Homo sapiens: one gene and its partners. The protein of the gene in region 2 interacts with the protein of the main gene of each other region in a biochemical or structural test. Each region holds a gene or a part of one and is shown on either strand. Other genes may lie near its edges.

What was found. Proteins that work in one complex are often made in the same cells at the same time.
Region 1: the proteins of TSC22D3 (region 2) and NFKB1 form a complex in vitro, tested with the Homo sapiens proteins (one study listed by BioGRID).
Region 3: the proteins of TSC22D3 (region 2) and RAF1 form a complex in vitro, tested with the Homo sapiens proteins (one study listed by BioGRID).

What each region holds. Positions count from the first base shown.
Region 1 is NC_000004.12:102,602,359-102,605,858, reverse strand, and holds part of NFKB1 (nuclear factor NF-kappa-B p105 subunit), read right to left. Parts: intron 3,345-3,500; exon of another isoform or gene 2,873-3,344; intron 1-2,872.
Region 2 is NC_000023.11:107,765,788-107,769,287, forward strand, and holds part of TSC22D3 (TSC22 domain family protein 3), read right to left. Parts: intron 1-3,500. UniProt on the Homo sapiens protein: Protects T-cells from IL2 deprivation-induced apoptosis through the inhibition of FOXO3A transcriptional activity that leads to the down-regulation of the pro-apoptotic factor BCL2L11.
Region 3 is NC_000003.12:12,605,118-12,608,617, forward strand, and holds part of RAF1 (RAF proto-oncogene serine/threonine-protein kinase), read right to left. Parts: intron 1,183-3,500; coding exon 1,084-1,182; intron 1-1,083. UniProt on the Homo sapiens protein: Serine/threonine-protein kinase that acts as a regulatory link between the membrane-associated Ras GTPases and the MAPK/ERK cascade, and this critical regulatory link functions as a switch determining cell fate decisions including proliferation, differentiation, apoptosis, survival and oncogenic transformation.

The DNA.
Region 1 (3,500 bases), on a different chromosome or scaffold from region 2:
AATTAAAAAATACTGTCCCATGGACTGGCTCCTGAGACCAGTCAATATAGCTTTCCTACACCCATTTCATAAAAGGTATTATAAGATTCTAAATAACATAACCAGGATAATACAAGTATCTCACCAAGGGGGCTCAGCTGAATAAAAAAGGTGAGCTGCTGATACCTAATAGGTACTTAAATAGTCCATTTGACTATCCTGCCCACAAGGTATTACTTCGGTGAATGCAAATAAGATGTTTTGCAAACTGTGTGTTTTCAAAAATGAGTAAGACAAATACAATCACAAACGTATCTTTCAAATAACTGAGTTCACTGACAGAGAACAGCAATGTATCTTTATACAAATCAGTTTATTTCACAGGAGCCTAACTATGACATCCAGCCAGTCTTGTGACAATTTGCCTAAAATTCCCTTTTCATTGAGCAGTTACTGGCTACAGCAGCAGGTGAGCCACCAACCTCCTAGCTGTGTAGGTGACCACAGCACATGATAACTGGCAGGATGAATGATGGGAGGGTAGTCTAAATCTCAACTACAGTGATTATTTACTATACAAGACCCTTTTTTTTTGCCAAATTATTACTTGCCCTTATTTCTTTCATTTTCTAGGACTATCAACCTGGCCTGAAATGAAGTGATGTCCTCAAAACTTTAGATATTGTTGCCAAGAGCCTTCTTCTCAAAAATAAGTCAATGGAAACTGTGTTTACTAATCTGTGTTTTCTGAAATGCTACTTGGGGAGATGGGAAAAGGAAAGAGAATGAGATTGTGAAAAAAGGATCTGAAATTATAAGATAGTATACCATTCAGGAATTATAAATTATCTGTAGCTTGAATTTAATTAAAAAATATCTTATGAGTCGGAGAGGTTTTTTTTTTTTAATATTTTCTTCCACAGTCCAATCAATGGTTTTCCATGATATAAACCTTCTAGTTCTTAAATCCAAGGATTATATCTTAAACAATTATACCTTCATGCTATGGCTGTGGGCATGGGGACTTACACAGACATTCTGGAAAGCCAAATATACAAATGTCCCAGCAACCCAACTCTTGCAGATGTATCTGGGTGAAATTCTGACACAAATCCACAAGAGGACATAAGTGAGGACAGTCACTGCAGTATTATCTACTGAGGTAGGAAGTTAGAAGTTGGTTAAATGTCTACTACTAGGAAACAAGGATGTTATAGGTGAAAGACCCATACTAGATTCTCTTCAGGAGCTGAAACAACAAACTAGCTATATGTAGAACTGTGTGGATAAGCAGTGAAGGCAGAAATACAGTAACATGTAGCACAATGCCACTTAGGCATTTAAAAAATATATGCACAAAGAACTATACAGATACACACAAGTGTGTGTAAAACTGGTGAAATCTGATTAAGATCTGTGGATTGTATCAACGTCTATTTCCAGGTTTTGACACTGTTCTGAGGTTATGCAGGATGTTACCATTGGGGGAAACTGGGTGAAGAGACCTCTGGTTTCCTTGCAGTAAATACTAGGACTTCCTAGTACGTTTTTGTAACCTCCTTTGAATCTATAATTAAATTAAATTAAAAAAATTTTAAAGGTTAATGCAAGGCAAGAGAAGTACATTTAATATAATGTGGATTGTATGTGAGAGTATATGAAAATATCTATGTATTTCAAGTATACGTACATTTGTATCCAGTACTTGAAAAACTACCTATAAACACAATAGTGACATTTGTGCTAGCAGACCTGGGCATTGTCAGGGTGGGCAACTTTGACTTTCCAATGTAGATTCTTCTGTACCATTTTTAAAACTATGAATATACATGATATGTATAATAATTAAAAACATAAAAATACATAAAACCCTCCAATAATGTTTTATGGGAACATACACAAATAAAACAATCCATACCAAACACGATAGAGTGGTTGTCTATGTTGGGGGAAGGAGAATGAAAGGAGAAAAAGGCTTAAAGAGAATATTTTCATAAAAAATCCTAACTCGGTGCACTTGGACTATTTTGAGTGTGTTTCTAGAGGGTGGGTGGGGAGAGGAATTTGATCATGACAGATGGTCACAGAAATGTACTTAGATTAGTGAAAGGTATTTGGGAAGAATGCTTAACTGTCAAATAATCCAAATTATTTAGAGAACTGTATCATTTTCCATTAAGAATAGTTACTAGAGAACCTTTACAACAGATAATCAAGAGTTCAAATCTTAGCAGTTTCTAATTCTCAAATCAAAGTTGCCATTGGGTGTGTGTTTGACACCTAGAAGGCATACTAGGGAAGCCAGAATCACTGCCCATTAATCAGACTGGTGGTAAGGTAGGGGAAAAATGGACGTATAGTCTTCTGAGAGTCCCCAAATCAGAAGGGATAGAAGTATCAATGGTGGCGGTTTCAGGGTTTTTGTCTCTAACACACTGGAGAGTCTCAACATATGTAACCAAATGATACAGTAAAGAGTTTAGGATATAAAAAAAAAATCATAGCTACTGGCCAGACGCAGTGGCTCATGCCTGTAATCCCAGCACTTTGGGAGGCCGAGGCTGGCAGATTACGAGATCAGGAGTTCAAGACCAGCCAGACCAACATGGTGAAACCCCATCTCTACTAAAAATACAAAAATTAGCTGGGTGTGGTGGTGCACGCCTGTAATCCCAGCTACTCAGGAGGCTGAGGCAGAAGAATCGCTTGAACCTGGGAGGTGGAGGTTGCAGTGAGCCGAGATCGCGCCACTGCATTCCAGTCTGGGTGACAGAGTGAGACTCTGTCTCCAAAAAAAAATCACAGCTACTAATCCTGTTGTGCTGTGTCCTTTGCAGATCCTATTTATAAACATAAAATAAGTAATTCCTTGAATATGACTGTTAAGCAGGGTTTGAAAAGAGGACTGACAAGCTACAATGTCCCATTCCTGGTTTTATTCATAGATTTGTGATGACTACAAGGAACAATCAGCCAAAAGTCTGCGAGAATCAAGCTTTACAGGCAAAATGACCTTACGGATACCAATGACCCCAAAACGGTATGAAAGTTTCAAGAAGACATCCTTTAAATGTAAATCTACAATCACACTTCATACTAGTTATTTTATATTAACAGGCAGTGAAGAGTCACTAACTTTACTTTTCCTTTGACAAGAAGCACAAGAGCCAGTGAAGAAGCCTAATGGTGACTTATATTGAATGAAAAATGGTCATTTTCCCCTATCAGGAAACCTATTAATTTTTACCTAGTCACAGGTAAAAACTATTAAGAGCCACATGTAAACGTTTTAGTAGTTTTGCTTTAAATGCACTTTAAAGCACACTTTTTTTTTTTTTTTTGAGACAGAGCGTCACTCTGTCACCCAGGCTGGAGTGCAGTGGCGCGATCTCGCCTCATTGCAAGCTCAGCCTCCAGGTTCACACCATTCTCCTGCCTCAGCCTCCCGAGTAGCTGGGACTACAGGCGCCTGCCACCATGCCTGGCTAATTTTTTTTTTTTTTTTGTATTTCTAGTAGAGA
Region 2 (3,500 bases):
GGAGTCCCACAAAGGAAAATTCTGCATCTCCATCTCAGGTCCCCTAATTTTCACTGGATTCTGTGATCTGGGGGACTAAGGGTGCCAAGCTCTTCTGAGCCCTGAGATGGTAGTCTTGAGCTTGTCCAAGAACTTATGAGTCAGCTTTGGATACAAATCATGCCTGCTGGTAATTCCCACACCACCTTTTTGACTTTGTTTCCCTGTTTCTCCTCTATTTCTTGGAGTGGAGAGCAGTGTCCCCACCTACTCACAGCCTGTGAGCCATTTACTTGATGGCAACACACGTGAGACAGGCTGGGGAAAAGACAAAGGAAGAGAAGAAGAGGAGCTATTGGTTTAGTTACAAACCTTGAGCTAGTGGAATATTAGATTGATGGGGGTATTCTGTGCTGTAGATAGTCACATTTGTTATTAGAGAAATCTGTCATAGAATCTGGCAATACTGACTTCACTGGGGGCTCAGTTCCACTAAGCCGGTAATGTAATTTTCTGAATAGGCCAGGCAGAGAGCTAAGAATCACTGTGAATTCAGGTCAACCTGGGGACTTTGAGACTTCATGGAGCGTGGACTGGGAATTGGCTCTTGAAAGGCCTTCCTTTAAACAGCTCCTCCACCTTCCGGTAAACCCTTTCACCTGGTGTCAGTCAGCCTGGAGTTTCCGCCCCCCCCCCAACAACTCCCCCCACCCCAACCCACCCAGTAGTTTCTGAACCAACAAGCAGATACAAAAGGAAGAGGGACTTCTGCGACCTGTTCTGGGGCCTCTCCATGCACCACGCAGTTTCTTTAGCAGTGCATTATCAGGTGATAGTAGGTTCCTCCCTGCCACCTCCAAAATGCCTCAAGCCAAATTAAGTCCACTCCAGCTTGCCTGTCTGCTTACATTTACTGCTGAGTGTGGAGGCTGAGTGTGGGACCGGGTCAGGCTTTGCTGCCTGGCATTTGCCTCTGAGCAGACTGCTTGCCTGACACTGGGGAGAGTAGGCTTTTCCTTGGGAAGTATGATGAGCTTGACTTGGACCCCCAGCAGGCTTCCAAATGCCTGTCCCCAGGGAAGCCTACCACTGAGCAAGCAGAAGTGTGATGCCTCAGTAACCTGGCTGTTACATAAGATGTGCTAGTTATGAGTCAGGGCCCTCAGGCTGGCCTAGGCCCAGCCTAGTCTGGGAGTGAGGCTAAACGGCAGCGCTGAAGGAGGGGTGTCTTGGGAGTGGGGTAAGCCAGGAAGGAGCTGCTGGAGTCGCTTCCTTTCCTCTCACTTCTCACCCCCTTCTTCCTTAGGGATAGCTCTAGCCAATCACCAGCCTAGATAGCACGGAGCGGGAATCCTGGCCAGACCCCTAAGCTGTGAACAGCTGCTCTCCATCTCCCCTGAAGAGAAGATTAGAAGAAGTGGGTTGAATACTCAAGCCTATTCTGTGAGTAAAGTCTTCCTTCGAGGAAGGATGGGGAAGGTCCCTGTGTGCTCTGTCCATAGGCAGGGGCCCGATTTCTGGCTGGACCTATTTGAGGAAAGTGGCTCCCAGGAGAGGAAGGCCAATGGTGAGCCTGGATCATCAGTGATCCAGCCTGCTTCCAGCTCTTGTTTTCCCTCGGGCTAGTGTCTGCACAATGGGAAGCTTCCCATTCAGTCTTCTGTGCTGGCTGGGATCTTAATGCCTCTTATACAGTTTCCAGAAGGGCCACAGCTACTTTGGGGCAGGAATTTTCAGCTAGAAGGTACAAGTGAACTTGCCTTGCCTACTGATGAAATTCCCTCCTGCCTGGAATAGAATCGAGAAAAGCTTGCTTTCTGCTCTCACAGATCGCATCTTAGCCCCACTCCAACTCTAGTTAAGCTGGATTTCAGCATGGTAGACAGTGGCCTCCAAAAGACATTTTCCCTGACCTGACTCTTCATCAAACCTAGGTTGCCCTGAAACTGGGATCTAGCCTTCTGGCCTTCATGGGGCTCCTCCTAGCCCATGGGGTTCTGTGGAGGGCCTTTTCTGCCAAAGCTGTGGTGCTACAGCAATGCCCTAACCCTTGTCCCATTATTGCAGACTTTGGGACAGCACAGTATGTTCTGGGCCATTATTGTTCTCTTTATTTAAAAGGAAATTTCATCTTTCTGACCCCTGTGGTCATGGACTCCTCTCCCCTGAGTTCACTGAGCACACAAAATACCCCATCAAATGAACCCATGTTTTAGTCTCAACTTAGCACATTGGTTTCTCCAGGGTTCAAGAGGCTATTGCACGATACCAACCAATTTGTTATATAAGCCCAGCCAGCCATGGCAGATTATGGCTTTACAGTTATCTCTAGGGATGGCTTACATAAGAAGAAGAGAAAGTTCAGGTAGGAGCAGAATCACGATGAGCAAACAGCGCAACAGCCACCACCAGGTGCAGACATGGCCAAACTCATTCCTCCCAACCAACCCACCCACCAGGTGGGGGCAAGAACTCTGCAGGGTTCCATCACCCGGGATGCCTAGAGGTCTTGGCAGTCTTGGCCAGATACATCCATCTCCATTTTACCCAGACTCCCTGGCCTTCAGTACCTGATCTGGAAAGGAGCCAACCCTCTACCTGGAATGGAGAGCTTGTTGGATTATCTGCAAGTGCAAATATAAGCAGGAGTGTTAACCTTCTCTTCAGGCAGGGAAGAAAACTAAGGTCACCCTGGAAAGCATTATTTGCTGAGGTGTGGACTCAGTAAATAATAGTCCACTCCTGGCAAAAACTGAGGAGTAGATGAAATTCAAGCTCTGTGCTTCCCACCTTTCTTTAAGAGCATGAACTTTCCAAACAGATCTTTTGAACTCTCATGCTGTCCAGGCCCCGTGCTGTAACAGCCCAAGCTAGGCCTTCCATGGACTCCAGCCCCATCTCTCTACCTCTCTCCTCCAAAGTTGGCTTTGCCACATTCCAGTCCCATAGGACCCTATTCCCAGTGGGCTGTCACCATGACCAGAGGTCTGATAAACAAATCCATACAAAGTAGTTAATGGCAAGTAATGGTGTCACATGTTACTCTTTAAAAAGGTATGCTAGACCTTGGCCATTCATGAGAGATACACACTAAAACTTTTGCCAGTCTCCAACTCATGGATGCAATCTCCAAAGCATGTCATTTCCCCCATAAAAAGTCCATTCCCAGGCAGCACCATCACTTTGCCAAACTTTGTAGCTTTCTCTTCGTTGTAATCACTAGCACCAGCAGCTGGCTTAGAGAGGGAGCATTCTCCTCAAGGAATGCCCTGAGACATTTGCTCATTTTATGACAGGTTCCTACGTATGTGTTGACTACGAGCAGTAGACCACAAAATTGTGTTGAAAAGTAGGTGCTGGGCAATGCCACTCCTAGGTATATACCCCAAAGAATTAAAAGCAGGGACTTGAACAGATACTTGTACACCAGTGTTCATAGCAGCATTCTTCATAATAGCCAAAAGAGGGCAACAACCTAAGTGTCCACTGACAGATGAATGGATAAGCAAAAGAGGTATATC
Region 3 (3,500 bases), on a different chromosome or scaffold from region 2:
TTCAAATTATCAAGAAAAATAAAAGCCATACAGAAATATATATCCAGATATATGCAAATTCCTTATTCTAAGATATGCTGCGTTTAATATTTCCATAGTATTTTCACATTAAACATTATCTGATTACACATTATGTGTGTGTGTGTGTGTGTGTGTGTGTGTGTGTATACATAATATATTTTTTTTTGGAGACAGAGTCTTGCTCTGTCACCAAGGCTGGAGTGCAGTGGTGCCATCTCAGCTCACTGCCTACCACGTTCAAGATTCTCCTGCTTCAGCCTCCCAAGTACCTGGGCCAAAAGGCACATATCACCACACCCACCCAGTTTTTTGTATTTTTAGTAGAGATGGGGTTTCACCATGTTGGCCAGGCTAGTCTGGAACTCCTGACCTCAAGTGGTCCATCTGCCTCGGCCTCCCAAAGTGCTGGGATTACAGGTGTGAGCTACCGTGCCTGGCCTAAAGTAAGATATTTTGGATGTAGATTTTACTTTAGGTTTCAAATTCATGTGTGTTAACACTGAGCAGTAGATAAACGCAACAAAACTGATTATAAAGCTGGAAAACAGAGTAAAGAAAGACAAGTTATATGCAAACTCAGAGACACATGAGAAACAATATTTATGCTGAAAATCTAATTAAATGTTTTTAAAGACACTAGTCTATTTAAATACATGGTTTTAGCAAATGCATCGGCCACAACATGCATTTCAAAGTTAAGGGTTTTATTTTTATCAAATCACTGTATTAAGTTTTAGGACCCTTTCCATTGAGGTTGAACTCAGTACATACTGAGGAAAGCAGAATCTCAAGCTCTTTAAAATGTAATGACATATTAAGAAATATGCTATGATAACAGAAGAAGCTACAGTCAAAGTCACTTTCCAGAATGTAAGACCTACAGGTCCATAAACAGAAATTTCTACCTTTTCTGTACCACCAGTATCAAGTTCCACAGAAGCAGCAAGGGGTTTCCACGTAGAGAGGAGGGAATGCGAAGAAACTCTTATTTTTTGTCTTCAAGCTTCCAACCCCACCACCCCAAATAACTTTCTAAAAGAAAAGCTATAGGTAAAAAATTACCTAACAGGCATCCTGGAAACAGACTCTCGCATACGACGCATAGTCAAAGAAGGTAGTGCTGGGACTCCACTATCACCAATAGTGGAATTTGGAAACAATCTAAACAAAAGCAGGGAAAGACTGGTTTTTAGGCTTGCAGTAATCTTACAGAGACAATCAGCATGCCTTGCTTTTGCAAACTCAGAGCTACTAAAACTGAACTTTTCCCAGTCACATTTTCCTCAACTGTTTTACATTACCTAGAATAAAGGGAACAATATTCCAAATAACTGGATTTGAATGATTATTGAATGTGAATAATACTGACCTGCCAATAAACATACAGGCTCCTGTGTGCTTTTTCTTTTTCTTTTTTTTTAAGATGGAGTCTCACTCTGTTGCCCAGGCTGGAGTGCAGAGGTGTAATGGCGGCTCACTGCAACCTCCACCTCCCGGGTTCTCCTGCCTCAGCCTCCCAAGTAGCTGGGATTACAGGCACACACCACCATGCCCAGCTAATTTTCGTATTTTTTTTTTAATTATACTTTAAGTTTTAGGGTACATGTGCACAACATGCAGGTTTGTTACATAGGTATACATGTGCCATGTTGGTGTGCTGCACCCAGTAACTTGTCATTTAACATTAGGTGTCTCTCCTAATGCTATCCCTTCCCCCAATTTTTGTATTTTTAGCAGAGACGGGGTTTCACTATGTTGGCCAGGCTGGTCTCGAACTCCTGACCTCAGGTGATTCACCTGCCTTGGCCTCCCAAAGTGCTGGGATTACAGGCGTGAGCCACCGCGCCCGGCCCAGTGTGCATTTCTAGGAAATACTGGTCCTGTGTCTAGCTATATCAAAATAATATTTTTCAAACTACAGTATAACATTTCACAAACTATGTCACACACAGCTTCTCTGGAAACATTCCATCTTGAAAATGCATAGATAAAAGACTAAAATAGAAGGAATAAATCACAGAAAAGTGAGTAATTAGGCACCTTTTTTCCATGAGGTGGGCACTTGTGCTTAGTAATTTCACAGGTTATGTCAGCAAGCCTCATAAGAACAATGCAAGGAAGGTAATATCCCCTTTATTCAGATGCATGAACGAAAACTCAGATGTGGTTATGGTTAATGACAACACTGAGATTTTGACATATGTCTGTTAGACTCAAAAGCTTGTGCCGCCGGATGCGGTGGCTCACACCTGTAACCACAACACTTTGGAAGGCCAAGGCGGACAGATTGCTTGAGCTCAGGAGTTCGAGACCAGCCTGGGCAACATGCTGAAACCCCGTCTCTAGAAAAAATACAAAAATTAGCTAGGCATGATGGCATACACTTGTAGTCCCAGCTACTCAGGAGGCTGAGGTAGGAGGATTACTTGAACCCGAGAGGTCGAGGCTACAGTGAGCTGTGATCATGCCACTGCACTCCACTGTGGGAGACAGAGCGAGACCCTGTCTTTAAAAAATAATAATAAAAAAAAAGGCTGGGCGTGGTGGCTCATGCCTGTAATCCCAGCACTTTGGGAGGCCGAGGTGGGCAGATCATGAGGTCAAGAGATCGAGACCATCCTGGCCAAGATGGTGAAACCTCATCTCTACTAAAACTACAAAAATTAGCTGGGCGTGGTGGTGTGTGCCTGTAGTCTGAGCTACTCGGGAGGCTGAGGCAGGAGAATCACTTGAACCTGGGAGGCAGAGGTTGCAGTGAGCCGAGATCATGCCACTGTACTCCAGCCTAATGACAGAAAGAGACTTGTCTCCAAAAAAAAAAAAAAAAAAAAAAAAGGGTGGGGGACAAAAATAAGATAAATTTTAAAAGCTTGTGCCATTTGTGCTACTCAAGCTCTCATCACAAAATCAATACGTAAGTGACCATGAAAGCAAAAACATTTTCATCATGGTCTAATAATAACACTCCCTTGGTTTCTCTAGTACTGTCAAAAAAGGACAAAACTTTTAAACTTTTCATATACCTAGTTACAGTTTTTAAAAGGCAGTTTGGACCATGTACTTTTAATGTAAACTTTAAATTCTTTAATAACATTTTATCTATATGAAATATATTGTCTCCTGAAAGAAACAAGAATCTTTCAAGATTTTATATTCAAACAATTTTAAGTCCAAACAACTAAGTTTTCTCCAGTTTGAAGTGAAGAAAATAGCATCAACGGTGCTTTCTGCTCCTTCTCAATGTCAAAGGCTCATTCAGCATATTCAACAAAATACAGAGCAGTGTCTACTAGCAACCCCAGTAGATAATACTATTAAGAGCGAAAAGCAAAAAATCTTCTTGTTTTCATATCCTTTTGCTCCTTTCCTTACTGAATCACAGTCACAGTATGTCAATCTCAATTTGACAGATAACAAGTCCTACTCCTACCTGCTCATTCTGGAGTATGAATGCCACCAAACCTAGCTAGTTTCAGAAT